Regions from separate parts of the Homo sapiens genome. Here region 2 is linked to region 1. The links come from fine-mapping of genetic effects on gene expression. A gene starts in region 1. The other region holds a variant in brackets. All regions are shown on one strand. Distances are between the middles of the regions. Region 1 holds the start of PRDX3 (peroxiredoxin 3). Region 2 overlaps DENND10 (DENN domain containing 10).

The links. PIP is the estimated chance that this variant, and not a neighbour inherited with it, causes the effect.
Region 2: its variant is the best candidate, but not a certain one, in a credible set for the expression of PRDX3 in whole blood (TOPMed, PIP 0.65).

The regions. Positions count from the first base shown.
Region 1 is chr10:119,174,764-119,189,331 of GRCh38, reverse strand. PRDX3 (peroxiredoxin 3) reads left to right here and starts at 10,520. Exons shown (of 7, transcript NM_006793.5): 1 at 10,520-10,577; 2 at 12,179-12,311. The coding sequence starts at 10,542. RefSeq lists enhancers at 5,714-6,459, 10,518-10,997, 10,997-11,641 and a silencer at 10,378-10,487.
Region 2 is chr10:119,127,507-119,143,808 of GRCh38, reverse strand. It overlaps DENND10 (DENN domain containing 10), which reads right to left. Exons shown (of 9, transcript NM_207009.4): 7 at 14,187-14,294; 8 at 11,200-11,294; 9 at 5,825-7,338. The coding sequence ends at 7,162. It overlaps SFXN4 (sideroflexin 4), which reads left to right. Exons shown (of 14, transcript NM_213649.2): 14 at 2,490-3,042. The coding sequence ends at 2,567. Among named protein-coding and RNA genes, the nearest start is that of SFXN4, 30 kb to the left of the region's middle. RefSeq lists an enhancer at 861-1,362. The variant G/A (reference allele first, on the strand shown) is at 9,412.

The DNA of each region.
Region 1 (14,568 bases):
TAAAGTCCATCTCAGGTAGATGGGGATTTGATAGGTGTCTGACCATTGTGGTCACCCTTATTCCTCATAGTTAGCTTGCTTTATTTATTTATTTATTTTTTGAGACACCATGTCACTCTGTTACCCAGGCCCTTATTCCTTATAGTTACCTTTATTTATTTATTTATTTTTGAAACAGCGTATCACTCTGTCACCCAGGCTGGGGTGCCGTGGTGCAAACATAGCTCACTGCAATCTTAACCTCCTGGGCTAAAGCAATCCTCCCACCTCAGCCTCCCGAGTAGCTGGGACTACAGGCATGCACCATCATGCCCAACTAATTTTTGTATTTTTTTTTGTAGAGACAGGGTCTCGCCATGTTTCTAGGCTAGTCTTGAACTCCTGACTTCAAGTGATCCACCTGTCTCGACCTCCCAAAGTGCTGGGATTACAGGTGTGAGCCACCGAGCCCTGCCCATAGTTAGCTTTAAAAGAAAAAACTGGGCTGGGTGTGGTGGCTCATGCCTATAATCCCAGCATTTTGGGAGGTAGAGGCAGGTGGATCACGAGGTCAGGAGTTTGAGACTAGCCTGGCCAATATGGTGAAACCCCGTCTCTACTAAAAATACAAAAATTAGCCGGGTGTGGTGGCGCATGCCTGTAACTCCAGTTGCTCGAGAGGCTGAGGCAGGAGAATCCCTTCAACATGGGAGGTGGAGGTTGCAGTGAGCCAAGATGGCGCCACTGTACTCCAGCCTAGGTGACAGAGTGAGACTCCATCTCAAAAAAAAAAAAAAAAGATAAGATAAAAGAAAAAACTGGCAAGGTTTCCTGAGTCAAAGCACAGCCCAGACCCAGCAGGTGCCTCAAGGCAGAAGAGGTTAAGCTGCCCTGAACAGGTAGATTCCCAGTACCTTTCTTTCCTTGCCTGCATGTCCCTGTGGCTTCCAGAAGAGCCTAATTTGAGCCTGTTTGGGGATCAGCGTTTGCACAAATTCCTCACCCCTCACTCCTGAATGAAAGGAGGAAAAGGGCTGGGCATGGTGGCTCACGCCTGTAATCCCAGCACTTTGGGAGGCCGAGATCGGCAGATCAATTGAGGTCAGGAGTTGACCTGGCCAACATGGTAAAACCCCATCTCTACTAAAACAAACAAACAAAACAAAACAAAACAAAACAAAAAAACCTGGCATGGTGGCACGTGATTGTAATCCTAGCTACTCGAGACACTGAGGCACAAGAATTGCTTGAACTTGGGAGGCAGAGGTTGCAGTGAGCTGAGATCATGCCACTGCATTCCAGCCTGGACGACAGAACAAGACTCTGTTTAAAAAAAAAAAAAAGAAAGAAAGAAAGGAAAATGAACTTCATCACTTTGAGAAAAAATAAAATGTCTTCAGAGCCTGTGCCAGTTGTTTGAAAATGTAGTATGTCTGCTTGTGGGGAAAAGAATAACTTATTTATACCACTTTCTCTGTATCTAGCACCCCACTACATCTTTTGCAGGCATTATCTCACTGTGCATGGCTGAAGCGGTAGATGCCATCATTACCCTCATTTCACACCTGCAGAAACTGAGGTATAGAAACATTAACTGGTCTAGTCACGAGGGATTCTGTGATGCCTGAGACATATGACCTGCCCTCCAAGACCATAAGTGACAGACCAAGAATTTGATCCCATGTCCTGGTGGCCCCACAGCCTGTGCCATTACCATTAGAGCAGTGGTTTCCTCTGGGGGTTCTCTTGTCCCCAGGGGACATTTGGCAACATCTGGAAACATTTTTCGTTGTCACAAATAAGTGGGTGCCTTCCTTTCACAAGCTTGGCAGGAAGACAGGAACAGACAGACCCCAGAGAAGGAAAGGAAGGCTGAGAGTCGCCCGAACACAGTGGCTCATACCTGTAATCCCAGCACTTTGGGAGGCCAAGGCGGGCAGATCATTTGAAGTCAAGAGTTCAAGACCAGCCTGGCCATGTGCTGAAACACATTGAAAACCCTGTCTTTACTAAAAATACAAAAAAATTTGCCAGGCGTGGTGGCGGGCACTGTTATCCCAGCTACGCAGGAGGCTGAAGCAGGAGAATTGCTTGAACCTGGGAGACAGAAGTTGCAGTGAGCCGAGATGGTACCACTGCACTCCAGCCTGGGTGACAGAGTGAGACTCCGTCAGAAAAAAAAAAAGAAGGCTGAGAGTAGAGTGGGCCCCAAGGTGGTGAACATCAATTGCAGGGGCGGAACCTATTAGAAATGCTTAGGCAAAAGAGCACAGCGTACCGCATCAATGGACAGAATCCACAGTGAGGCCTGGTGCCTGGGAGTGGAGTACTTGAGATATTTCACTAAAGGACAGATGGTCAGTGCTCCTTCATGTCCTCACACAGCCCACATTTATAGTACCATCTCCTATTATGTCCCATCAAGCACATTATGCTCCAACAAATACTGTAGGAGGTCATACAATATTGCTTTAAGAGTTGGGGCACTTGGCCAGGCACGGTGGCTCACGCCTGTAATACCAGCACTTTGGGAGTCCAAGGTGAGTGGATCACGAGGTCAGGAGATGGAGACCATCCTGGCTAACACGGTGAAACCCCATCTCTACTAAAAATACAAAAAAATTAGCCAGGTGTGGTGGCGGGCGCCTGTAGTCCCAGCTACTCGGGAGGCTGAGGCAGGAGAATGGCGTGAACCCGGGAGGCGGAGCTTGCAGTGAGCTGAGATTGCGCCACCGCACTCCAGCCTGGGCGACAGGGCGAGACTCCATCTCAAAAAAAAAAAAAAAAAAAGAGTTGGGGCTCTGGCCTCACACCGGTAATCCCAACATTTTGGGAGGCCAAGGCAGGAGGACTGCTTGAGCCCAGGAGTTTGAGACCAACCTAGACAACATAGGAAGACCCTTCTCTACAAAAACTAACAAAATTAGCTGGGCTTGGTGATACACACTTGTGGTCCCAGCTCCTTGGGAGGCTGAGGTGGGAGGATTGTTTGAGCCCAGGAGGTTGAGGCTGCAGTGAGCCATGGTTGTGCCATTGCACTCCAGCCTGGATGACAGAGAGAGACCCTGTCTCAAAAACAAACAAACAAACAAAAAACAATAAAAATGAAAAGGAATGGGGGCTCTGCAGTCAGCTTTCAAGGTTTAAATCCTGGCTCCTTCCCTTTCCAGTTGTGGGACTTTGGACAAATTACTAAACCTTCCCAAGCATCAGTCTCCTCACCTTGGAAATGGGGATGATGAATTAAAAACAGTACCTGTGGCTGGGTGTGATGGCTCACACCTGTAATCCCTACACCTGGGGAGGCCGAGGCAGGCGGATCACTTGAGGTCAGGAGTTCGAGACCAACCTGGCCAACATGATGAAACCCCATCTCTACTAAAAATACAAAAATTAGCCAGGTGTGGTGGTGTGCACCTGTAATCCCAGCTACTTGGGAGGCTGAGGCAGGAGAATCACTTGAACCCAGGAGTGGAGTTTGCTGTGAGCTGAGATCATGCCATTGCACTTCAGCCTGAGTGACAGAGCAAGACTCTAAAACAAAACAAAACAAAACAAAACAAAAAACAAACCGAAAAAGCACCTGTGTCATAGGGTTGTGCAGACGGAATAGAGATACTGCATTCAACCCAGAGCGTAGCCCCATAGTGTGGTCACTGAAGATAACAGTAAACCAAAGGGACAAAGGTCACTAGTCACTTCCACCTGCCATCTTCCCCTTCACCTTCCCCAAGCAGCAGGATAGATGATTTCTCTGTGAAGCCCTTCTTGGCCCCTTTCTCTAAACCATGATAGCACTTCACTTGCACCTCTCTTTTATTTAATATAACGAACACTATGTGCCTGCTGACTGTGCTAATGCCTTTAAAATATGAACTCATTTATTCCTCACAAAAGCCCTTGGGGTAAGCACTAACATCATTTCAATTTTACAGATGGGAAAATGTGCTAAGTAACTTGCCCAAGGCCACGTGCCTGCAGCTAGCAGAGCTGGTGTGTCAATCTCAGCTGTCCACACTCAACCATTATGCCTCTTTCATGCCTCTTAAAATGCTGAATCTTGGACTGGGTTTTTTTTTTAATGATTTTATCAGTATTCCTTGGATACACACACAGTTCCTCGGCAGCAGGGTCTAAGTGATCCTCTCCAGTACATGTTTATTAATGATTAAAATCACATTGTTGGCTAGGGACGGTGGCTCATGCCTGTAATCCCAGCACTTTGGGAGGCCGAGGCGAGAGGATCACTTGAGGTCCGGAGTCCAAGACCAGCCTGGCCAACATGGCAAAACCTGGTCTCTACTAAAAATACAAAAATTAGCTAGTTGTGGTTGTGGGCACCTGTAATCCCAGCTACTCAGGAGGCTGAGGCAGAAGAATCTCTTGAACCCAGGAGGCAGAGGTTGCAGTGAGCCGAGATTGCACCACTGCACTCCAGCCTGGGCAACACAGCAAGATTCTAAAAAAAAAAAATCACATTGTTAATTGATCCAATACCAGAGGGCTCTCTATTTGGTACCTAATAGGACAGGAAACAGATTACTTCAGAGGCTAAAATGGGCAGGAATCATGCAGGAAATCTAACTGAAGGCAGCCGCAGGTGAATGGGGCTACATGGAAGACGGAAAGTAATGTTACCTTGAAGCAGCCAGGCACGGTGGCTCACACCTGTAATCCCAGCACTTTGGGAGGCCGAAGCGGGCCGATCACCTGCGGGCCAATCACCTGAGGTCAGGAGTTCGAGACCAGCCTGACCAACATGGCAAAACCCCATCTCCGCTAAAAACACAAAATTAGCTGGGCGTGGTGGTGCATGCCTGTAATCCCAGCTACTCAGGAGGCTGAGGTAGGAGAATCACTTGAACCTGGGAGGCAGAGGTTGCAGTGAGCCGAGATCGCACCATTGCACTTTAGCCTGGGCAACAAGAGCAAAACTCCGTCTCAAAAAAAAAAAAAAAAAAGAATTGCTTTCAGAGCCAATTATGAGGCCCTCAAGTAATGTTACCTTGAAGCCTAACCCTGCCTATGAGCTGGCACTAACTAATGCATCTGAGCTTTAAAACTGAAACCAGGATGAGTGAGGTGAAATTCTAAGGGAACTCCACTCTGCTCTGTCGCTTTGACTTGCACCATGCTTTACATTTTTATAGTGAAGTTTAGTTATGAGCCAAACTGCCTGTGTGCAGGAACTAAAAAACACACGCCTACAATAGGAGAGCAAGAGGCCCTCCAGCATGGGGAAGGGAGAGGTGGGCGGCAAAGGGCTGTGGGCATAAGGAGAAGAGAAGGCGACCCCTTGGCTTGGCTTTGCCCCCCTCCCCCCTCCCCTTTTGTTGACTTGAGCTACTGAAGCTTAAGTACTTTAAAACTGCAGGCTGTTGTGACAGTGGCTCATACCTGTAATCCCAGCACTTTGGGAGCTGGAGGATCACTTGAGGTCAGGAGTTCAAGGCCAGCCTGGGCAAGATAGCGAGACCTTGTTTCTACCAAAAAAACAACCCTGTAGTATGAGGGAGAAGAGGAGACGATGAGGGTGTGGATGACGTAATCTCACGAGTTGGCTGGGGAAAAGGTGCTGAGGCTGAACTCCATCAGACACACACGCTGGGTGGTCAGTGGTATGGAATTTCTGGGTTCTTGCCCTACCTCTCTGCTTCTAGCCAGTGATGTGATTTTGGGAAGGTCTCTCCATCTCCAAAAGGCTCAGTTTTCTGAGCCTTTTAGATCTATTAAATCACTGGAGTAGACTACAGTATATAATGTTTTTAGTCCCTATTTCTTCTACATTTTCTCTCTCTCTTTTTTTTTTCTTTTCCTTTTTCTTTTTCTTTCTTTTTTTTTTTTTTTTTTTTTGAGACAGGGTTTTGCTATGTTGCCCAGGCTGGTCTCAAACCCCTGGGCACAAAGTGATCCTCCTACCTTGGCTTTCCAAAGCGCTGCAATTACAGGCATGAGCCACCATGCCTGGCCTTTTTCTAATTTTTTTTTTAATTGAGGTGAAATTCACCAAATATAAAATTAATTATTTTAAAGTTTACAATTCGGGGTATTTAGTTAATTCATAATGTTATACCCACCTCTATCTAGTTCCAAAACATTTTCATCACCACAAAAGAAAATCCTGGACTTCCCTCTCCCTCTCCCTCTCCCTACTCTCCCTCTCCCCACGGTCTCCCTCTGATGCCGAGCCGAAGCTGGACGGTACTGCTGCCATCTCGGCTCACTGCAACCTCCCTGCCTGATTCTCCTGCCTCAGCCTGCCGAGTGCCTGCGATTGCAGGCGCGCCGCCACGCCTGACTGGTTTTCGTATTTTTTTGGTGGAGATGGGGTTTCGCTGTGTTGGCTGGGCTGGCCTCCAGCTCCTAACCGCGAGTGATCCGCCAGCCTCGGCCTCCGGAGGTGCCGGGATTGCAGACGGTGTCTGGTTCACTCAGTGCTCAATGGTGCCCAGGCTGGAGTGCAGTGGCGTGATCTCGGCTCGCTACAACCTCCACCTCCCAGCCGCCTGCCTTGGCCTCCCAAAGTGCCCAGAGTGCAGCCTCTGCCCGGCCGCCACCCCGTCTAGGAAGTGAGGAGCGTCTCTGCCTGGCCGCCCATCATCTGGGATGTGAGGAGCCCCTCTGCCTGGCTGCCCAGTCTGGAAAGTGAGGAGCGTCTCTGCCCGGCCGCCATCCCATCTAGGAAGTGAGGAGCGCCTCTTCCCGGCCGCCATCCCATCTAGGAAGTGAGGAGCGTCTCTGCCCGGCCGCCCATCGTCTGAGATGTGGGGAGTGCCTTTGCCCCACCGCCCCGTCTGGGATGTGAGGAGTGCCTCTGCCCGGTCGCGACCCCGTCTGGGAGGTGAGGAGCGTCTCTGCCCAGCCACCCCATCTGAGAAGGGAGGAGACCCTCCGCCTGGCAACCGCCCCGTCTGAGAAGTGAGGAGACCCTCTGCCCGGCAGCCGCCCCGTCTGAGAAGTGAGGAGCGTCTCCGCCCGGCAGCCGCCCTGTCCGGGAGGGAGGTGGGGGGTCAGCCCCCCACCCGGCCAGCCGCCCCGTCCGGGAGGTGAGGGGCGCCTCTGCCCAGCTGCCCCTACTGGGAAGTGAGGAGCCCCTCTGCCCGGCCAGCCGCTCCGTCCGGGAGGGAGGTGGGGGGTTCAGCCCCCCCGCCCGGCCAGCTGCCCCGTCCGGGAGGGAGGTGGGGGGTCAGCCCCCCGCCCGGCCAGCCGCCCCATCTGGGAGGTGAGGGGCGCCTCTGCCCGGCCGCCCCTACTGGGAAGTGAGGAGCCCCTCTGCCCGGCCAGCCGCCCCTTCCGGGAGGGAGGTGGGAGGGTCAGCCCCCCACCTGGCCAGTCGCCCAGTCCGGGAGGGAGGTGGGGGGGGGTCAGCCCCCCGCCCGGCCAGCCGCCCCGTCCGGGAGGGAGGTGGGGGGGGTCAGCCCCCCGCCCAGCCAGCCGCCTCGTCCGGGAGGTGAGGGGCGCCTCTGCCCGGCTGCCCCTACTGGGAAGTGAGGAGCCCCTCTGCCCGGCCACCACCCCGTCTGGGAGGTGTGCCCAACAGCTCATTGAGAACGGGCCACGATGACAATGGTGGTTTTGTGGAATAGAAAGCGGGGAAAGGTGGGGAAAAGATTGAGAAATCGGATGGTTGCCGTGTCTGTGTGGAAAGAAGTACACATGGGAGAATTTTCATTTTGTTCTGTACTAAGAAAGATTCTTCTGCCTTGGGATCCTGTTGATCTGTGACCTTACCCCCCAACCCTGTGCTCTCTGAAACATGTGCTGTGTCCACTCAGGGTTAAATGGATTAAGGGCGGTGCAAGATGTGCTTTGTTAAACAGATGCTTGAAGGCAGCATGCTCGTTAAGAGTCATCACCACTCCCTAATCTCAAGTACCCAGGGACACAAACACTGCAGAAGGCCTCAGGGTCCTCTGCCTAGGAAAACCAGAGACCTTTGTTTACTTGTTTATCTGCTGACCTTCCCTCCACTATTGTCCTATGACCCTGCCAAATCCCTCTCTGTGAGAAACACCCAAGAATGATCAATAAAAATAAAATTAAAAAAAAAAAAAAAAGAAAATCCTGTACCTACTAAATAGTTCCGGCTGGGCGCACTGGCTCACACCTGTAATCCCAGCGCTGTGGGAGGCCAAGGCAGGCAGATCACTTGAGGTCAAGAGTTCGAGATCAGCCTGGCCAACATGGCGAAACTCCGTCTCTACTAAAAAATACAAAAAAAAATTAGCTGGGCATGGTGGTCACACCTGTAGTCCCAGCTACTCGGGAGACTGAGGCAGGAGGATTGCTTGAATCTGGGAGGCAGAGGTTGCAGTGAGCTGAGGTTGCAGTGAGCTGAGATTGCATCACTGTACTCCATCCTGGGCAACAGAGGGAGACTCTGTCTCAAAAATAAATAAATAAAATAAAAAATAAATAGTCAGTCCCCATGCCAGCTTCTCCCAGTCCCTAACAATTGCTGATTTGCTTTCTGTCCCTTTGGAATTACCTATTTTAGATGTTTCATATAAAAGGAAACACACACTATTTGTTCTTTTGTGTCTGGCTTCTTTCACTTAGCTAGTGTTTTCAAAGTTCATCTGTGTTGTAGCATATATCAGTATTTCATTCCTTTTATGGATAAATAATATTCCATTGTGAACTACAGTATTTTTTTTTTTTTTTTTGAGACGGAGTTTCAATCTTGTTGCTGAGGCTGGAGTGCACTGGTTCAATTTCGGCTCACTGCAACCTCTGCCTCCCAGGTTAAAGTGATTCTCCTGCCTCAGCCTCCCAAGTGGCTGAGATTACAGGTATGCACCACCATGCCCAGCTAATTTTGCAATTTTTAGTAGAGAAAGGGTTTCACCATGTTGGTCAGGCTGGTCTTGAACTCCTTACCTCAGGTGATCCACTCACCTCAGCTTCCCAAAGTGCTGGGATTACAGATGTGAGCCACTGCGCCCGGCCTACAGTACGATTTTGAGCTCCAAAATGATTGTCTCCTTTTCAATCATCTGCTAAACACAGACATAATTAAAACCAATTAAACAAACACAAGGAAGGTGTGAGGTGAAATAGTCGAAACGTGTGTCCCCACACATCCAAGGCAGTCCTTTCCACATCTGGGGACTGGTACCCAGGGTGGCGCCTAGTGGTACCTGAGATGATTTTAGAAAATATACTGGGCTGGGTGTGGTGGCTCACGCCTGTAATCCCAGCACTTTGGGAGGCCAAGGTGGGAGGATCACCTGATGTCAGGAGTTCAAGACCAGCCTAGCCAATATGGTGAAACCCCATCTCTACTAAAAATACTAAAAAAATTAGCCGGGTTTAGTGGTGCACGCCTGTAATCCCAGCTACTCGAGAGGCTGAGCCAGAAGAATCGCTCGAACCAAGGAGGTAGAGGTTGCAGTGAGCCGAGATTGTGCCACTGCACTCTAGCCTGGACGACAGAGTGAGACTCTGTCTCAAAAAAGAAAAGGAAAAAAAAAAAAGAAAGCCAATTTAAAGAAAATAGTAAGTGATATTTGGTGATAAGAAGACTTGAGAAACGAAGTTGCTAATTGAATGACTAGTGATTGGAAAATACCAACTCAGACCGGGTGCAGTGGCTCATGCCTATCATCCCAGCACTTTGGGAGGCCGAGGTGGGCGGATCACTTGAGGTCAGGAGTTTGAGACCAGCCTGGCCAACATGGTGAAACCCCATCTCTACTTAAAATACAAAAACTTAACTGGGCATGGTGGCAGGCGGCTGTAATCCCAGCTGCTCAGGAATCCCAATTACTCATGAAGCTCAGGCAGGAGAATCGCTTGAACCCGGGAGGCAGAGGTTGCAGTGAGCCAAGATCATGCCACTGCACTCCAGCCTGGGCGACAGAGCAAGACCCAGTCTCAAAAAAAAAAAAAAAGAAAAGAAAAGAAAAGAGAAAAGAAAATACCAGCTCCAAGACTGCAATTTGTCACACTTACTGTAAGGCCACGGTGTGATTTTTATCTATGTTTGATGTGGTTGCTTCAAGTACTATGCTCACCACTGAACACTTGGCTTCATTAATAGACAAAAACCAAATTTTAAATTTGTCCCAGTTTTCCCAATTTTGGGAAGAGAGGCCAAATGTTAGACCACACACAATTCCAGCGGATTTCAGGCCAACAAAGCCTTGATGTGTCTAGCCCACTTAGCTTATTAACGGACTAAAACTGCATTTGTAATTAATTCCATTTCATACAGAAGCCGGAAGTCTCTACCTGAGGCTGAAATAAGAAAGGGATCCTGTCACAGAAATACTAGACACAGTAATCCACACAAGGTTAACAAAACAGTGGGAAATATGGAAACAAATACCTAATGCCCCGCCTGGATTCGTTCTTTTAAGGTTGGGGCGACAGTAGGAAAACCACGTGTCACTTGCCCAAGCATTCAGCCTTAAAGGGAATTTCTCCCTCAGGGTCTCCAGGAGGCGGGGAGGCGGTGGCTCCTCCGGCCCCGCCCCCCCACCAGCAGAGGGCCCGCTCACCACCCCGTAGGCCCCGCCCCTGCGTCTCTGCCCGCCCCGTGGCGCCCGAGTGCACTGAAGATGGCGGCTGCTGTAGGACGGTTGCTCCGAGCGTCGGTGAGTGGCTGTCGGCTGGGGACAGGCGTGGAGACACTGGTGGCTCCGGGAACGTGCTTCTCAGACAGGACCCCGCGCTTCTGGGCATGAGGGCCATTCGCCCTTCTTGGAGGGTTTCCGCGGGTAACGGACCCAGAGGCCTCCCTCCGGGAAGGTTCCATGCGCCTGCGCAGAACCGCCCTTCCCCACTCCATCCTCGCGGTCTCTTCCCCGAGTCCCTCCTCTTTCGGCGTCCCCGGTCCCCAGGCCCATCTCCACTTAAGGTCCTGGCCCTGATTCTGCCACCGACCCTGTGATCTTGGGCAAGCGCCTTCGCCTTTCTCAGACTGTGTACTTAAGATGGAAAGAATGATGCCTACATCAAGGCGTTGCTGTGAACAGCCCCTTAAATACTGGATAAAAACGCGCAAAGTGCTAAAAAACTCACAAAGGCTTTCCCTCCCAATCCCACTCCCGCGTGTTTCTGCTGCTGTTTCCTGCTTAACTGTGGGCAATGCGTCGTGCTCTTTTGGTACACGGCTTTCTCTGGTGGGGTTCAACACAGCCCCTTTCGTTCTCCTGAGTCATTTTGAACATTAAAGTTGAGCAAACCGGCAGAGTGCGGTGGCTCACGCCTGTAATCCTAGCACTTTGGGAGGCCGAGGCGGGCAGATCACTTGAGCCCAGGAGTTTGAGACCAGCCTGGACAATAATAGTGAGACCTTGTCTCTAAAAAAAAAAATAGCCGGGCATGGTGGTCAGTGCTCCTGGGGAGGCTAAGGTGGGAGGATCACTTGAGCCCAGGAGGTCGAGACTGCAGCGAGCCGAGATCGCGCCACTGCACTCTAGCCTGGGTAAAAGAGCGAGACTCTGTTTCAAAAAAAAAAAAAAAAAGTTGAGTAAACATGTCCCTTGAGCCTTTAACAGACTCCCAGAGGCTGAATTTGGCTCTTCTTGTTTACTTGTCGCTGGTGCTGGAGGGGCCTTGTTTTTCTAAGGAAAACCTTGAAATGGTAGAACATACTCAGCAGATAGTGCTGGGAAAAGCCTGCACAAGTCCCCTGGCTTCTGAACCCTGTGTTGCTTTAAGCGCATGGAGTTTCTGATTTTTTTTTTTTTTTTTTTTGAGACGGAGTTGTCGCCCAGGTTAGAGTGCAATGGCGCGATCTCGGCTCTGCAACCTCTGCCTCCCGGGTTCAAGCAATTCTCCTGCCTCAGCCTCCCAAGCAGCTGGAATTACAGGTGCCCGCCACCGCCGCCTGGCTAAGTTTTGTGTTTTTAGTAGAGATGGAGTTTCACCATCTTGGCCAGGCTGGTCTCGAACTCCTGACCTGGTGATCAACCCGTCTTGGCCTCCCAAAGTGCTGGGATTACAGGTGTGAGCAACCGCGCCCAGCCGGTCTTTGTGTTCTTATAGTTCCTCTCCACCTTCCAGTCTCCTAGGAGAAGGAAGCAGAAGGGAGTGTTAAGAACATGCAGATCCAATCCATGCTCTTAGAGTTTGGGGTTTGCTATTTGGTTCACAGGAACAGGGACAGCTGAAACCACCGTTGGCACGATGCCCTTTCAGCCTTCAGTCACCAGTCCAGGAAAACTTTCTAATAAAAAGTTTCTCTTTCCAGGTTGCCCGACATGTGAGTGCCATTCCTTGGGGCATTTCTGCCACTGCAGCCCTCAGGCCTGCTGCATGTGGAAGAACGAGCTTGACAAATTTATTGTGTTCTGGTTCCAGTCAAGCAAAATTATTCAGCACCAGTAAGTGTTATGTCATGTCTTGGCTGGAGCCAGGTAAAGGAAAAATGAACCATCGTCTCTGGACAGGGGCTCTGAACCCTGGCCAAACGTTAGAGTCACCTGGGAGCTTTCAGGAACACAGCACTGCCCCCGTCCCACCCCAGACAAGTTAGTCTGTGGGGTGAGACCAGGATGTGCCGGGTGATTCTAACGTGCAGCCAGGGTTGAGAATCACTGAGGCAAACTGCCCTTGTCACATTTCCATGTTGGTTGTCAGAGTTTCTAATCCACTGTGTTGAGGAGGGTGTTACTGGGAGCTCAGATGCCTTCTGAGTCTAGTGTGTCTGAAGAGCTGTGAGTGGTGGGCAGCCTGTGGGGGACCTGAGAGGGCAGCTGCTCTAAGATTCAAACCTGTGTAATGGCCCCAGCTGGCCACTTAGGAACCAGACCTGTCTAATGGTATCTGTAATCTGAGCGAAATTTAGCTGTTTCTTGAGATTTACACTCCCTTCTCTAGGATATGGGCTTTGCTAAGATCAGCCTCAGATAATGAGTGGTATTTGAAAATACCTTGTCTAGATTTGACTAGCCTTTGAAAAAGCCCGTATTTAATATGTAATGGTTTGTGGGGATATACTTTAGTAAAGCCTTTGTTTGTGGGCAAAATGTTCTAAGAGCTTTCGCAATTTTACTACCCTGGAGCTTCAAAATATTTCTAGTAGTGATGTGATACCACAGGCTTAAAACTTTACTCCACTGGTTTCGAATCCTCATCCCCAGCAGCGCCTCCTGTTTCTGTTCATGGCGGTGTCAGGCATTTTGACATTGGAACTACTCTGTCGCTCATTCCTGGGTAGAAGCAAGTCCTTTTCAGTTTTGACACATCTCTTGCATCCATTCCTTTCTGTTCTTTCTGCCCCATACCTCCCCTCAATACGTCTAAGATCACTGAAATCGAGGCTGGGCACAGTGGCTCACACCTGTAATCCCAGCACTTTGAGAGGCCAAGGCAGGCGAATTACTTGAGGTCAGGAGTTCAAGACCATCCTGGCCAACCTGGTGAAATCCCGTCTCTACTAAAAATACTTAAAAAAAATAAGCCGGGTGTGGTGGTGTGCTACTGGAATCCCAGCTACTTGGGAGGCTGAGGCAGGAGAATTGCTTGAACCTGGGAGGCGGAGGTTGCAGTGAGCCGAGACCATGCCACTACACTCCAGCCTAGGTGACAGAGCGAAACTCTGTCTCAAAAAAAAAAAAATCACTGAAACCACCTCCTAACATGTCTCCCCCTTCCTCCTGCTCCTCTTTCCCTCCTGCCGGACTAATCTTCCTAAAAACCCCCATCTCAGCCAGGCACTGTGGCTCACGCCTGTAATCCCAGCACTTTGGGAGGCCGAGGCTGGCAGATCACGAGGTCAGGAGATGGAGACCATCCTGGCTAACACGGTGAAACCCCATCTCTACTAAAAATACAAAAAATTAGCCGGGCGGGGTGGCGGGCGCCTGTGGTCCCAGCTACTCGGGAGGCTGAGGCCGGAGAATGGCGTGAACCCAGGAGGCAGAGCTTGCAGTGAGCTGAGATTGTGCCACTGCACTCCAGCCTGGGCGAACAGAGCGAGACTCCGCCCTTGACTCTGTTATCTTTCCTGCTAAGAAGACCCAGCAGCCTAGTATTTAAGGACTGTTGCAACATGGCCTTCAACCATTCCTGCCTGCTGCCTGCTCTTCACTCCGTACCCTTAGACACTCTCTGTTCTCATTAGACTGCCACACGCTGCTCCACACACATGTCCTGTCTTCCTTCCTGCTGTTTCCTACATGCCATCTGCCCCATCCCATCTAGACTTGACAAAATCTGAACCATATTTAAAATCCATCTCTAGTCTCATGTCTTCCTTAATTCTATCCCTACTTTGTCTTCCTCTTTTTAGTTTCTGTAGCAGTTGGAATTGAATTTGTGCACAATCTAAAACTATAGAAGGAGAAATTACAGTTGGCCCTCTGTATCTGGATTCTGCATCTGTGGTTGGTTGAATCGAAAATATTGGGAGGGAAAAATGGATGGTTGTGTCTATACTGAACACAAAGTCTTTTTTTCTTGTCATTCCCTAAACAATACAGCTTAACGACTATTTACGTAGCATTTACGTCGTATTAGGTATTATGAGTAATCTAGAGATGATTTAAGTATACTGGAGGGTGTGTGTGGATTATATGCAAATCACCACTTTATGTAAGAGACTTGAGCATCTGTAGATTTCGATATCCTAGAACCAAT
Region 2 (16,302 bases), 46 kb after region 1:
CCTCGTCTCTACATAAAATGTTCTAAAAATTAGGTCGGGTGCTGTGGCTCATGCCTGTAATCCCAGCACTCTGGGAAGCCCAAGTGGGAGGATCACTTGAGCCCCGGCGTTCAAGACCAGCCAGGACAACATAGCAAGACCTCGTCTCTGCTAAAAATAAAAATTTGGCTGGGCACAGTGGGTCATGCCTGTAATCCCAGCACTTTGGGAGGCCGAGGTGGGAGGATCACTTGAGCTCAGGGTTCGAGACCAGTCTGAACCTCATCTCTCTTCTGAAAAAAATTGTTTAAAAAGAAAAAATAATAATTAGCCAGGCATGGTGGTATGTGCCTGTAGTCCTAGCTACTCAGGCAGCTGAGGTAGGAAGATCACCTGAGCATGGGAGGTCAAGGCTACAATGGGGTCACAGAGTGAGACCCTGTCTCGAAAAAAAAAAAATTAGTAGGGTGAAGCGGCACACACCTGCAGTCCCAGCTACTCAGAAGGCTGTGGTGAGAGGATCACTTGAGCCCAGGAGGGAGAGGGAAGAGTTCATCCCCAGTGGAGGATGGGAAGGGCTGAATGGGCACGTGAGGCTGCAAGGAACAGGCAGGATGCTGGGGGCCAGGTGGCAGGGCCTGCACAGCCAGGCCAAGGAGCAGGGCAGCAGGTAAGTCATGCAAGGTTGGAAGGGGCAGAACTCCCAGAGGCCAGAGTGGAGGCAGGAAAGGGAGTCAGTCTCACGCGTGACCTCAGATGCCAAGACTTGCTTGCTGGACTTTGGAAATATCCTGTTGGGGCCGGGCGTGGTGGCTCATGCCTGTAATCCCAGCACTTTGGGAGGCCGAGGCGGGCGGATCACGAGGTCAGGAGATTGAGACCATCCTGGCTAACACAGTGAAACCCCGTCTCTACTAAAAATACAAAAAAATTAGCCAGGCATGGTGGCAGGCGCCTGTAATCCCAGCTACTCGAGAGGCTGAGGCAGGAGAATGGTGTGAACCCTGGAGGCAGAGCTTGCGGTGAGCCGAGATCGCGCCACTGCACTCCAGTCTGGGCGACAGAGCAAGACTCCATATCAAAAAAAAAAAAAAAAAAAAAAATTCAAAACATTAGCTGGACGTGGTGGCGGGTGCCTGTAGTCCCAGCTACTCGGGAGGTTGAGGCAGGAGAATGGCGTGAACCCCAGAGGCGGAGCTTGCAGTGAGCCGAGGTCGCGCCACTGCACTCCAGCCTGGGTGACAGAGTGAGACTCCATCTCATTTAAAAAAAAAAAAAAAAAAGACACAAAATATCCTGTTGGCTCAAGGAGGGCATGGAGGTGCTTAGATGAGATAAGGAGTTATTACTAATTTTGTTAGGTGTGACAATGACATAGTAGTTTTGTAACTACTGTCATTACTATATCAAGTACTATATCAATAATGATAAGGTCTTTATCATTTGGAACTTGTAGGTGACATGACATGAGAATTGCCTTAAAATACTCAAGGAAAAAAATCCTACTGCTGGGTGTGGGAGGTGCTTGATGAAATGAGATCTGCAAATTGTTAATAGTGATTCCTGAGTGAGCACATGTGAGTTCATTACATTCCTTCTACATTTGTTTTTTGTTTGTTTGTGTGTTTGAGACAGGGTTTCTCACTCTGTTGCCCAGGCTGGAGGGCAGTGGTATGATCATGGCTTACTGCAGCCTTGACTCCCAGGCTCAAGTGATCCTCTGACCTCAGCCCCCCAAGTAGCTGGGACTACAGGAACGTACTACCACACCTGGCTAATTTTTTATTTTTTGTAGAGATAGGGTCCCACTATATTGCCCAGGCTGATTGCAAACTCCCCACCTCAAGCAATCCTCCTGATCTCGGCTCACTGTAACCTCCACCTCCCAGGTTCAAGTGATTCTCGTGCCTCAGCCACTGGAGTAGCTGGGATTACAGGTGTGTGCCACCACACCCAGCTAATTTTTGTATTTTTTGTACCATGTTAGCCGGGCTAGTCTTGAACTCCTGGCCTCAAGTGATCTACCTGCCTCAGCCTCCCTAAGTGTTGGGATTACAGGCATGAGCCATTGTGCCCAGCCATCTTAAAACTTTTTAATGGAAACTTTCAATTATAAACAAATGTAGAGATAAGTAAATAACAATAATGGGCCAAGGATGGTGGTGCGCGCCTGTAATCCCAATCCCAGCTACTCGGGTGGCTGAGGCATGAGAATGACTTGAACTTGGAGGGTGGAGGTTGCAGTGACCTGAGATGGTGCCACTGCACTCCAGCCTGCGCAACAGAGCAAGACTCTGTCTCAAAAAAAAAAAAAAAAAAAAAGTTTAAGAAGTTTCTTTACTGCTTGGGTGATTAAAAAAAAAAATAGGTTACATTTTCTGCTATAGATTAGACATTATTGAAAAAGATGGACTGTGAAATGGTTGCTTTCAGAAAATGATTTTTTTAACTTGGCTTCTAAGGCAAGAAAAACTATTAATAGAAACATTATGAATTTAACTATTTTTCAGATACAGTACTGTAGTCTTGAAGAGAAAATTCAGTCTCCAACAGAAGAAACAGAAATCTTTTATCACAGAGGGGTGTAGGCGTGAGTTTTAGGTGAATTTATGTGGTTCCTGCTTGAAAACCTTCCCCTCTCCAGGTTCGGTTTAGAGAACTTTGCCACAGGTCTTCTGGGGACCCCAGAGGTGTCTGTGCTGACAAGGCGACTTCAGATTCCATACTGAGATCGTTCCCAGGCTGGCGTCTCTGGGGTTTTTAAGGCTGGCTGGAGAAGACAGTGGGAGGGTGCCCCGTCTGACACCCCTGGGGTTGCTGAGGGAACGGTTGGAGTGGGGATCGGCCTGCGAAAGGATACTGTGAAATCACTAATTAACTAATAAACCTGTCTCAAGTTGAGGATTTGAAGAAAGAACACAGAGTCCACCGTGCCCAGGACACAGGTGTTAAATGGATAGGCCGTCTCAAGCGGAACACGTACCCCTGGGGCGCTGTTTACGCCCTCCAACCCCAAAAGCAATCTTGTTTCCTTACTCAGTGTCCTCCATTCTAGACAGCTACTTAAAACCTTTGCCGCCCTCCGCCCAGTGCCTCCTTTCTCCTCTCTGGCAAAGGACCCTGCCTCCTCCGCCAGGAAACAGGTCAGCAGTGGAGCCCCCCACACCCGCACCCACACCCATCCTTCCTCCGTGTAATGCCAGCGTCCTCCAGGCTCTGGGCCTCTCTCTGCTTCCTCAGGGCTGTGCTCTGTAGCCTCTGTCTGCCAGGTCCTTCCCAGAAGTATGTAAACTACTTGTCGGCCAGGCGCGGTGGCTCACGCCTGTAATCCCAGCACTTTGGGAGGCTGAGGCCAGTGGATCGCCTGAGGTCAGTGGATCGCCTGAGGTCAGTGGATCACCTGAGGTCAGGAGTTCGAGACCAGCCTGGCCAACATGGTAAAACCCCGTGTCTACTAAAAATATAAAAATCAGCCAGGCGTGGTGTTGCGCACCTGTAGTCCAAGCCACTCAGGAGGCTGAGGCAGGAGAATCACTTGAACCCTGGTGGCGGAGGTTGCAGTGAGCTGACGTCATGCCATTGCACTCCAGCCTAGGCAATAGAACGACTGTGTCTCAAAAAGAAATAAACTGCTTGTCACCTGCCTCATTAGAGACAGGATCTTGCTGTCACCCAGGTTGGAGTGCACTGGCACAATCAGCTCACTGCAGCCTTGAACTCCTGGGCTCAATGAGGACCCACCTGCCTCAGCCTCCTGAGTGGCTGGGACTACAGGCGCCTGTCACCACGCCTGGCTGTAGCCAGACACTTTAAAAGAGTTGTCCGCCCTCACTGTCTCCACCCCACCTCCCGTTCTGCTAAGATTTCTCTCATCCGTGACCCACCTGAATGTGGCACTGCCACACTGCTGGGCACTCAGGCTGGTCACTGAGCTGCTTACTTGGCTGTACTTTGCCATTTGGATGTCCCAGACACCTCAAACTCAACCCATCCGAACCTGAGATCAGCTCTCCCTCCCAGTCTCAGGAATTGACACCACCACCTCCCCAGGTGCACCAGACAGGATCACTGGAGGCGCCCTCTCCCCACCTTACCAGCCTATGCAGTAGACAGGGCCCAGTACATGGAGTCTGGAACCCACATATGCCCACTGCTACCACCCAGCGCAGTCCAACAGCATCCCCTGCTGGCACTGCCTGGCCCATCTCCTGCCTACTCCCTCCGGTCCACGTTCCAGCCTGCTCTTCTAAACCACACCTGCTGAACAACTGTTTTTTTTTCTTTTGAGACGGAGTCTCACTCTGTCACCCAGGCTGGAGTGTAGAGTGCAGTGGCGCGATCTTGGCTCACTGCAACCTCCACCTCCTGGGTTCAAGTGATTCTTGTGCCTCAGCCTCCTGAGTAGCTGGGACTACAGGCATGTACCAGCCACCACGTCCAGCTAATTTTTGTTTTGCTTTTTTTAAGTAGAGATGGGGTTTCACCATGTTGGCCAGGCTGTCATCTCCTGTCCCCGCGATCCACCCACCTTGGCCTCTTTAAGTGCTGGGATTACAGGCCTGAGCACCGCACCGGGCCTGAAAAGCCTTAAATGGCTTCCCAGTGCGTCAAGATCAAGCCCACCTTCCTCACCACAGCAAGCCTTTCCCATACTCGTATCCTGCCACTCCCTCCCCTCCCTGTAGACCCTCCAGGTCCTCACATGGGCTGTGGTCTCTTCTCAGGGCCTTCACACAGCTGTTTCCTCTGGTCTGAGTAGATGTCTACTTAATGCTTCAGGCCTGACTTTGACATTGATCACTCCCTCTGGGAGGCCTTCCAGGATTGACAGCACTGAACTGGGTCCCCATCTATGTGCTCCAATACCACTCTGTTTCACACATCACGCCTAGCACTAGCCACACTACAGCAGCCTGTTTGCTGACCCTATTCCCCAAGCGGACTGTGCGCAGCACCGCGAGAGCGGGAGCTGCTGCCCATCAGGGTAGTTCAAAATACAACACAGGCATGGCACAGAGTAGGTACCTCAACATTTGAGTACTGGACTAATGCTTCCAACACACCCTACCCCACATTACCAAAGAATTTATCTGTGGTTTTGTTTCCCCAAGGCCAGTATGATGGTTCATTTCCAAATTTGGTGAGGAAAGTTTCATAACAGCCTAAAAGGACAAAATCAGTAAATGGCTCAGTTTGACCATAGGCTGACACTAACCAAAATTAAAGTTAGAGAACAAGATGGGCAACAGCTGCAGGTGGAGGTTTAACCGCTAACAGATGACAGAAATGTGAAGGCATCTTCCAAGGACAGGAGACTGAAGTTACAGAGGCAGCTCCAGGAAGGCGAGTGGAGGAGGGCTAGGGCGGGAGGAAAGGGTGTGTGGGGGACGGCTTGAACTTTTTTTTTTTTTTTTTTTTGAAACCAAGTCTCGCTCTTTTGTCCAGGCTGGAGTGCAATGGTGCAGTCTCGGCTCACTGCAACCTCCGCCTCCCTGGTTCGAGCAATTCTCCTGCCTCAGCCTCCCAAATAGCAAGTAGCTGGGATTACGGGCATGTGCCACCACACCCAGCTAATTTTTGTACTTTTAGTAGAGATGGGGTTTTACCACGTTGGCCAGGCTAGTCTCAAACTCCTGATCTCAGGTGATCCGCCCACCTCGGCCTCCCAAAGTGCTGGCATTACAGGCATGAGCCACCGCGCCCTTGGCCGTCTTGAACTTTCAGACAGGTCTTTTAATAATTCCCTAGCGCCCTCACAGTTGAAAAAAGGTATTTTTTCCCCATTTTCTTTGGAATGAGCAGTATTAGAGAAAGAGGGGACAATTCGTCACCCACCTAAAAGTAGTTGAATATCAAAATATATCAATTTTATTTCTGCATCATAAATTTATAATTTTAACAACTTTGATCATTAGCTAATATAGTAATACAAAAAAATGAGAAAAAAGATGTTAATATTCCTCATTTCCATAAAGTGCAGATTTAATTTTCAATTATTTGCCTTAGTAAACATTGTCTTATTTCAGGTACTCCCTGCCCTCACTCAAAAAAAAGGGAGGGTGTTTAATTTTTATTGAACAAATATGTAATACCAAGAAAAAGATGAAAGACCCAATAATGTTTTTTGCAAACATGTTTCCAGGTAAGATTTCCAAGGACATCAGTACTGAGTGAAAAATAATCCTTTACAGTCAATATGAATGAATACACTAACAAGTACATCATTTAGATCTCCATGCTTATTTGGCAATTCCAGTTATGAAAAAGGTACATAAATAGTACAAACAATTGGCTTGACATGTGGCCAAACTACTTTCATCGAAGTTGCTGGAAGCCTTTCTCTGGTTTTGGCCCCTGTAGGAAGTTAATCTCATATTCCCTTAGCAATAATATAAGGTCACTGTTTCAGTCCTACACACTTTTATATTCAATGGGCTTCTTAGTTTATCACATAAGGACTGGCACTTTTTTCAAAAGAATATTGCTAACAGGGTTAAATGAGTGCTAATGGCTGAACGTTTGCCAAATGCTTACTTCTGCGATAGTATAAATATGGATTATTAAAGTTGTCTACTCAAGTATAAAATATATGCAAAACTCTCATAGGCAAAATGTTCAAAGGCCGGGAAAAACCTTTTTTTTTTTTTTTTTTTTTTAACTTTTACGAGAAAGTGCAACTGCAGGGTCTCTTGAATGATCTTCTAGACAGTTCCGCAGAAAATTAGCAGTTTGGCTCAGAAAGTAGAGTTCCTCAGGAGGAATTAAAGTTCTTCCTAGAAGAATACAAAGCAACGTTTCAGGCAGCTTTCTGAAAATAAACCATTAGCTTATGCCTACACAGCGAGACAAACTGGAACGTGTAATAATGAAGGCTTTCACATTTGTTGTGATGTGCTTTTTTTCTCTTACCCCAGGACCTCTAGCTGTTCTGTAATGTTACATAAAGTAGTTATAGCACTTCGTCCAGCACTGACAGCAGGCAGGAAGCTAATCAGCGAGGAGAAAATCGGAAGTGTGTTCATGTGTTTCATTGTTTTTCAGGTCAAATCTCAATACTTGCAAATAAATCATTAAAAAGATATAACAGTTTCTCTGTTATTTTCAGGACTTCATGTAGTGAGTGGGTAATCAGAGTGAAAGAGGGCTTTCTATCAGTCATCAGTGATACGTTCTGTCACACAGTCAGATTTTCAGCATTTGTTCGGCTGCTGCTAGATGATAAAGGAAGTTTTCTGTTGCTGGTGGAAATCGTTTTTGCTTTAGCGCCTCCAAATTAAGGACTCTCTTTTCTCCATCAGCCGAAACTTCTGAAAACGGTGCTAGGTTGGTAAAGATTTCTCTTGTTTTTAGAGCAATATCCTTTAATAGAACAGGAAAATATATGCAACATGTTAGTATCCGAAATTTGAATATTTAGTCTCTAGAATTCTTCCTATTTTTTCCAGACTGTTTATAAACTATGAAAAATGAGCTTGGCGTGGTGGCTCATGCCTGTAATCCCAGCACTTTGGGAGACCGTGGCAGGAGAATGTCTTGAGTCAGGAGTTAGAGAATGCAGTGAGCCATGATTGCACCACTGCACTCCAGCCTGGGCAACCCTGTCTCAAAAACGAACAACAAAAAAGATAACTCCTTTTTTTGTTGTTGTTTTCGAGACAGGGTCTCGCTCTGTTACCCAGGTTGCAGTGCAGTGGTTCAATCATGGCTCACTGCAGCCTCGACCTCCCAGGCTCAAGTGATCTACCCACCTCAGCCTCCTGAGTAGCTGGGACTACAGGCATGCGCCACCACACCCAGCTAATTTTTAAATACTTTTTGTAGAGATGGGGTTTCACCATGTTGCCCAGGCTGGTCTCAAACTCCTGGGCTCAAGCAATCTGCCCACCTTGGCTTCCCAAACTGCTGGGATTATAGATCTGAGCCACTGCATCTGGCCTGATAATTCTTTTTAAAGAAAAAATTAGGAAAAATGAAACAAAATTAACTTAGAAAAATCATAGTGTGTGGTTTTGGTTTTTTTTTTTTTTTTTTTTTTTTTACAATTTTAGTCATTTTCTGAGTGTATAATTCAGTGGCATTAAGTACATTTGCAGCGTTGCACAACCATCACCACTATTTCCAGCACGTTTCACCATCACAAACAGAAACTCTACCCATTACACAATAACCCCATTTCCCCTCGCTTAGCCCCTGGGAACCTCTATTCTGCCGTCTAACTCTGTGAATTTGTCTGCTCTAGATAGCTCATATAAGTGGAATCATACAACATTTACCCTTTAGTGTCTGGCTTATTTCATTAGCATGGTTTCAAGGTTCATCCATGCTATAGCATGTATCAGAATTCTATTCCTTTTCTCCCCCCCAACAAAAGCCACATTCAAAACATTCCATTCCTTTTTAAGCTGAGTAATATTCTACTGTATATAAAGACTACATTTTGCTTGCCCATTCATCTGCTGAAGGACACTGGGTTGCTTCTGCCACGTTTTGGCTACTGTGAGTAACACTGCTATGGATATTTCCATACGAGTACAGTCATGCACCACATAATGACGTTTTGGTCAACCAGGGACCACATTTACAATGGTAGTCCCATAAGATGATAATGCTATATTTTTACAGTATCGTTTCTTTTCTTTTTCTTTTTTTTTTTTTTTTTTTTTTTTGAGACAGTTTTGCTCTTGTTGCCCAGGCTGGAGTGCAATGGCACAATCTCGGCTCGCTGCAACCCCCGCCTCCCGGGTTGAAGCGATTCTCCTGCCTCGGCTTCCCAAGTCGCTGGGATTAACAGGCGCCCACCACCACACCCGGCTAATTTTTGTATTTTTAGTAGAGATGGGTTTCACCATGTTGGCCAGGCTGGTCTTGAACTCCTGACCTCAGGTGATCCGCCCGCCTCGGCCTCCCAAAGTGCTGGGATTACATGCATGAGCCACCGGGCCTGGCCGAGTCCCTGCTTTCAATTATTTTGGGTATATACCCAGAAACAGCATTGCTAAATCATATGGTAACTTGATGTTTAACTTTTTGAGAAATGCTGCTATTGTTTTTTTGAAGGAATCTCTTCCCAAAAGTCCTCTTCTGCCTGGGATAAGTAACCCGGCACCTGCCACGCAGGCTTTATTCCTTTTGGGTGGCTGAGGACTCACTAAAGCACTCATTAAAATCATGTCTTCTGGCCAGGCATGGTGGCTCACGCCTGTAATCTCAGCACTTTGGGAGGCCGAGGCAGGTGGATCATTTGAGGTCAGAAGTTCAAGACCAGCCTGACCAACATGGTGAAACCCTGCCTCTACTAAAAATACAAAAAAATTAGCCAGGCATGGTGGTGCATGCCTATGGTCCCAGCTACTCGGGAGGCTGAGGCAGGAGAATCGCTTGAACCTGGGAGGCAGAGGTTGCAGTGAGCCAAGATCACGCCACTGCACTCCC[G/A]CCTAGGCAACAGAGCGAGACTCTGTCTCCAAAAAAAAAAAAAAAAATCATGTCTTCTGGCCAGGCGTGGTGGCTCATGCCTGTAATCCCCAGCACTCTGGGAGGCTGAGGTAGGCGGAGCACTTGAGGTCAGGAGTTCAAGATCAGCCTGGTCAGCGTGGTGAAACCCCATCTCTACTAAAAATGCAAGATTAGTCAGGTGTGGTGGCAGGCCCCTGTAATCCCAGTGCCTGCTACGTGGGAGGCTGAGGCAGGAGAATCGTTTGAACCCACGTGGTGGAGGTTGCAGTGAGCCAAGATTGCACCACTGCACTCCACCCTGGGCGACAGTGAAACTCAAAAAAGGGAAAAAAAAGTCACGTCTTCTTCCTTGTTTGCTGACATCATTAATTCATTCATGTATTTTTGAACCCTTACAGCATTCCCAGCACTTTCACTTGCCCTCCCCAAGGTCTCATACGTCATACTAAGTCATCTAGGTAGCACTTTTAGTCTGTGAACAACACAGTAATGCAAAACTCAGATTCACATATGTTGCTGATATTGTAAGAATATGTCTTTACTCTAATGTTGGGGGTAGGTGGGCAGTGAGGATTCCCATGGTAGGAAAGAAGCGGCCCCAGAGTCTCCAGTGTTCAGGTCCTCAGGGCAAGATCAGCCCACTCTTCCTGCTCACAGCTGGCCAGGCCACCAGCACTGCAGAGAAATGGCCCCTCTCATCTTTCCGCTGACATGTCACCTCCTTAGAGATCTGGCCTACCCATCCCCCAATATTCTCCACCTCAACCCCTTCTGTCACAGCACCTAACATGGGCTGTAATTATCTTGTCATTTATTATTTTCTGTGCATCTACTCCACTAAATTACAGACTCCATGAGGGCAGGGATTTGCTCACCACTGCATCCCCACTGCCAGTGCAATGCCTAACAAACAGAGCTCAAGAAACACTGAGTAAATGAATGGATAAATGAAGAAGGCATCAGGTTGGGCCGAATGAGTAAAGCCTGCATATCAGAGGTGCCCCCGTACCCCCAGGTAGGACAGGTGCAGATGGGAGACAGTCCTTCTGGGCCCTCCAGCCCCAGGTTATGAGTCAGGCATCTAGATAAGGCAACGCTGGAAGTGTATCCTTCAGGAGAGGAGCAAGGAGCTGGGAACAGGCCAAATGCAAGGAGCTGGGCGGGCTGCAGGCCACCACGTGGAAAGCACAAGAAATAAAACCCATTTGCCATCCCAGTTTGGCAAGGGCAGAGCAGGTGCCCACTGGGCCACATGGACGCTGGTCAGCATGCCAGGTAGACACCAGCAAGGAGCTGGCTCTGCGGCATGTGGCAACAGTCACTAAGTGGGACAGGAGTCTGACTGCATGATTTCTGTTGTCCTGGAGACAAGCAAAGCAAAATTTTGACAATCTAGTTCCCCATGCTCAGCAACAACCTCCCCTTTATAATTTGTTCCTCCAGGGAAATTCTCCTAGGAAGAAAGAATGCACTGGCTGGCCCAGAAAAGCCTTCCAGACCACTTGGTAGTTACATTTCTCATTGCCAGCGGTCGGTGTCAGCACCAGCCCCTGTGTATACCTGCCCTCGAGCCCAGTAACTAACTAGATCAGGCCAGCCTGCACCTGCTTGTCCATCATCACTGTGGCCGTCTGTAAACCCTCTCTAAGCACCTGCCCGCTGGCCTCTACCACAGCCCCCCACTCTGCTTATGTGCACAGCTCTGCCGCACACCACCCAGCGACACCGGGTCAGGACTTTCAGTAAGTCAGAAGGTGAGGGAGTTACCTGTATAACGTGGCTCTCTGATTTCTCTGGATCTTCTGCAGACTGAACAATTAGCTGACCCATTTCTTTGTGCAGTTTGCCCATTGCCATGGCCTCTGGTGAGATCAAGAAGGTGAATATTTAGAAATCGACATAAAAAATAATCATGCCATCTATCTGAAAACTTGGAAGACCACACTGAGGGAATTTTCAAAAAGCAGCTGATAACCTCCCACATGTCCATTTTATCACTAGACACAAATATGACAACATGCTGGGAGGAAAGGCATAATATAATCGTGATTTATACTTCTGGGCAAACATAAAAACACATCACACCAAACCAGATTTCCCCTTCACACCCACCTGACCAAAATTTTTATTTTTCTTCCCAGACAAAGCATAATGAACAATTCTGACTACAACTAAGTCATGACTATAAGCCAAGAGTCTGACGTTCTAGTCCAGCTCTTTACAGTTAAGAAATGTATCTTTTTGGCGGGAATATTGTGAAAGAGGAGCTTCCTGTCAGTTCTGCAGAAGCCAGCTGGGCGCTCAATTCGTTTAGATTCTTAGAAATGAGCAAAGGAAACCACCTAAGTTAGCCTGGTTACATACATTGCTACTGTCTGCACTGAGGAGGTTAACAGAAACTTGTTTGTCACTTCAAGAGACAGACTCCATTCAACTGGTGCGGATTAGGATGAGCCCATTTTTATAGACACAGAGCAACACAGGGCAGCAGGAAGATGGCCACCCTTTCTGGTCCTAATGCTTCAGCTGCTTAAGTGGCCCTAGCCACAGCCAGTTTTCTTTCACTTTCGCTTTGCAAAAGGCAGTTATTTCGTAAAGATCTGACCCCATAGTTTGAATTTTTCATCATGAGCATGCATTATGTTTGCAATTTTAAAACGAATTAAAGGAAAGCCAGTTATGGTTCTATTAATTTGAATTTTTCAATAAAACCTCACATAATCGAATCTAACAATTCCCAATGAGTCAGCATTCAGCTGCCCCCACTTTTAGGAGAAAGATAAGTGACAAAACAAAGCTGTTAATCAGTAATCCCATCTAAAACCACTACCTGAGTAGTGCTCAACACGCATTTAAGCCAATCTTTTCTACTTTATGTAGCTGTAATTTGGGACAATTTATTTATTTATTTATTTATTTGAGACAGAGTCTTGCTTTGTCACCCAGGCTGGAGTGCAGTGGCGCGATCTCGGCTCACTGCAAGCTCTGCCTCCCGGGTTCAACTGATTCTCCTGCCTCAGCCTCCCGAGTAGCTGGGACTAGAGGCGCCTGCCACCACGCCCGGCTAATTTTTTGTATTTTTGGTAGAGACGGGGTTTCACCGTGTTAGCCAGGCTGGTCCCGATCTCCTGACCTCGTGATCCACCCGCCTTGGCCTCCCAAAGTGCTGGGATTACAGGCGTGAGCCACCATGGCCGGCCTAATTTGGAACAATTTAGAATGTCTAAGAATGCCACTCTAACACTAGTACACCCTTTCCTGATCATTAGCTCTAAGAACAGCTTCATTCCCTTATGCTTACTAAGACATGCTTCAAAAAGATTTTCCATACTGGAGTCACATTTAACCCTGTGTAGTGATAAACGCCTACATATTTTTTGATACTCCTTTCTTCAAGAGGTGGAGACATTCCTCTCTCAAGTGTTGACTAAACTTAGTGATTTGCTTCTAACAAATAGCATATGGAGGAAGTAATGGTGACTATCAAGGCAAGATTATAAAACGCACTGTGACTTCCTTTTCTCTCTCGGGTCACTCACTCCTGGGGAGCCAGCTGTCATATTGTAAGAACACTCAAGCAACCCTATGGAGAGGCCCATGGCAGAAGGAACTGAGGCCTCCTGCCAACAGCCATGCACATTGAAAGCGGATGTTCCAGCCCCAGTGGAGCCTTCAGATGACTGTGGCTCTGGGATATCGTGACTGAAACTTCCTGAGCCAAACTACCTCTACATAAGTCATTCCTGATCCGCCAAAACTGTGAGATAAATATGTGTTGTTTTAGAACATGATGGCTCACGCCTGTAACCCCAGCACTTTGAGAGGCTGAGGCCAGTGGATCACTTGAGGCTAGGAATTCGAGACCAGCCTGGCCGACATGGTGAAACCCTGTCTCAAGTAAAAATACAAAAATTAGGCCAGGCGCAGTGGCTCACATATGTAAGTAATCCCAGCACTTTGAGAGGCCAAGACAGGCAGATCATGAAGTCAGGAGTTCAAGACCAGCTGACCAACATGGTGAAACCCCATCACTAACTAAAAATACAAAATTAGCTGGGTGCGGTGGCGGGTGCCTGTAATCCCAGCTACTCGGGAAGCTGAGGCAGGAGAATCACTTGAACCTGGGAGGCGGAGGTTGCAGTGAGCCAAGATCGTGCCATTGCACTCCAGCCTGGGCATAAGACTCCATCTCAAAAAAAAAAAAATTAGCTGAGCATGGTGGTGCATGCCTGTAAACCCAACTACTCGGGAGGCTGAGACATGACAATCACCTGAACCCGGGAGGCATAGGCTGCAGTGAGCCAAAATCAGGCCACTGCACTCCAGCCTGGGAAATAGAGCAAGACTCTGCCAAAAAAAAAAAGAAGAAGAAAAGAAAAAGGAATATGTGTTGTTTTAAACCACTGAGTTCTGTATGACTCAGAAACATTTCAAAATTAAGAAAATAAACCGCTAAGTTCTGAAGTGATTTGTTATGTGGCAGTAGATAATACACCTTGTTTAAACACAAAAGTAGTGAAACAAGATGAACAGACTATTTAACTTCTTAATATACACTCTGCTGCATAAGCACCCGGGATGTTCTGCTAATATGTCTATGTTTATAGGAATAAATGTTGTGTTCTAGACACGGAAATATCCATCTTCAGCAGAGTTGGTAAGCCAGCCCTCACATACTGGTTTTAGAGAATCAGCCTAAAAATGTACAACTGTTTGGCTTATATCTTGTATCAAGAACAGAACAGAGAACAAACCTTTTGCAAGGGGAGCAATGGTAATCTCACTCTCTGCCAGATTCACAAACACATCATAGAGGTCTGGTCTGTTGCTCACCTCCAAGTCTACAAATCCAGCGACGTAACCTGCATCACAAACATGAGCAACCTTACTGGAGTAGGAAGAAATATGGTGAACCCATCAAAAGAATTGGGTCTAAAAGCTCATCGACTGCTCTCTTTCACTGCTTTATTCATTCGGGAACATTAGCTGTACCCTGTGGCAGTTAGTAAGACTACATTACTATCAGTTGCCTGAAGATATTCACACAACGCCAGATATTCCAAAATTATCCATCAGTGTCAAGGACAAGACTGAAGTAGGGCATTTACTTTCCAATCATTGCTCTTGGGGTCAAGAATGACAGCTGTGGCAGAAGGTAGCAAGGACTCTCTTGACTGATGTTCCCCCTTCAGGTCTTTGCCTTCAGGAAATCAATGGCAAATGCCTGGGTTCTCAGAGTGGAAATGGCATCATCTTTAAGGGTTCAGGGCAACTCAGGAATTAGCAGATCTCTGGGATTGGTGTTAGAACAATGATTCCCAGATTTTTTTGATTTCACAGAGCAATACAATTACCAAAAAAAAAAATTATTTGAGGAGAGACTGATATGGTTTGGATCTGTGTTCCCACCCAAATCTCATGTCGAACTGTAATCCTCAATGTTGGAGGTGGGGCCGGGTCGGAGGTGACTGGATCATGGGGGTGATTTCTTATGAGCGGTTTAGCACCATCCTCTTAGTGTGGTTCTCGTGATTGAGTTCTCACAAAATCTGGTTGTTTAAAAGTGGACGGCACCTTCCCCCACCTTTCTCCTGCTCCAGCCATGTAAGACGTGCCTGCTTCCCCTTCACCCTCTGCCATGATTGTAAGTTTCCTGAGGCCTCCACAGAAGCAGAAGCCACTATTCTTGCTGTACAGCCTGCAGAACTGTGAGCCAATTCAACTTCTTTTCTTTATAAATTATAGTCTCAGTTTTTTTGTTTTTTTTTTTTGAGACAGTCTCGCTCTGTCACCCAGGCCAGAGTGCAGTAGCATGATCTCGGCTCACCGCAACCTCCACCTCCCAGGTTCAAGAGATTCTCCTGCCCCAGCCTCCTGAGTAGCTGGGACTACAGGTGTGCGCCACCACGCCTGGCTAATTTTTGTATTTTGAGTAGAGACGGGGTTTCACCATATTGGCTAGACTGGTGTCGAACTCCTGACCTCGTGATCCGCCTGCCTCAGCCTTCCAAAGCGCTGGGATTACAGGCGTGAGCCACTGTGCCTGGCCTTTTTGTTTGTTTTTGAGACAGAGTCTTGCTCTGTTGCCCAGGCTGGAGGGCAGTGGCACGATCTTGGCTTACTGCAACCTTCACCTCCTGGGTTCAAGCAATTTTCCTGTCTCAGCCTTCTGAGTAGCTGGGACTACAGGCATATGCCACCACACCTGGCTAAGTTTTGTATGTTTAGTAAAGACAGGGTTTCACCATATTGGTCAGGCTGGTCTTGAACTCATGACCTCAGGTGATCCACCCACCTTAGCCTCCCAAAGTGCTGGGATTACAGGCATGAGCCATCCCACCCGGCCTTCAGTTATTTCTTTATAGCAGTGCAAGAACACACTAATACAGGACCAATTTATCATTCCTAGAGTTTTACTTTACCAAGCAAGGACAGTTAAAAAATAACAGGTGGGGGCAGTGGCTCCTGCCTGTAATCCCAGCACTTTGGAAAGCCGAGGTGGGAGGATCACTTGAGGCCAGGAGTTTGAGACTGTCCTGGCCAACATGATGAAACCCTGTCTCTACTAAAAATACAAAAATTAGCTGGTGGCCAGGCGCAGTGGCTCATGCCTGTAATCCTAGCCCTTTGGGAGGCTGAGGCGGGTGGATTGCTTGAGCTCAGGAGTTCGAGGCCTGCCTGGGCAACATGGCGAAACCCCATCTCTACTAAAAATAAAATAAAAAAAAAAATTAGCTGGGCATGGTGGCACATGCCTGTAGTCCCTGTTACTCGGGAGGCTGAGGCACAAGAATTGCTTGAACCTGGGAGATGGAAGTTGCAGTGAGCCAAGATCACGCCACTGCACTCCAGCCTGGGCAACAGAGCGAG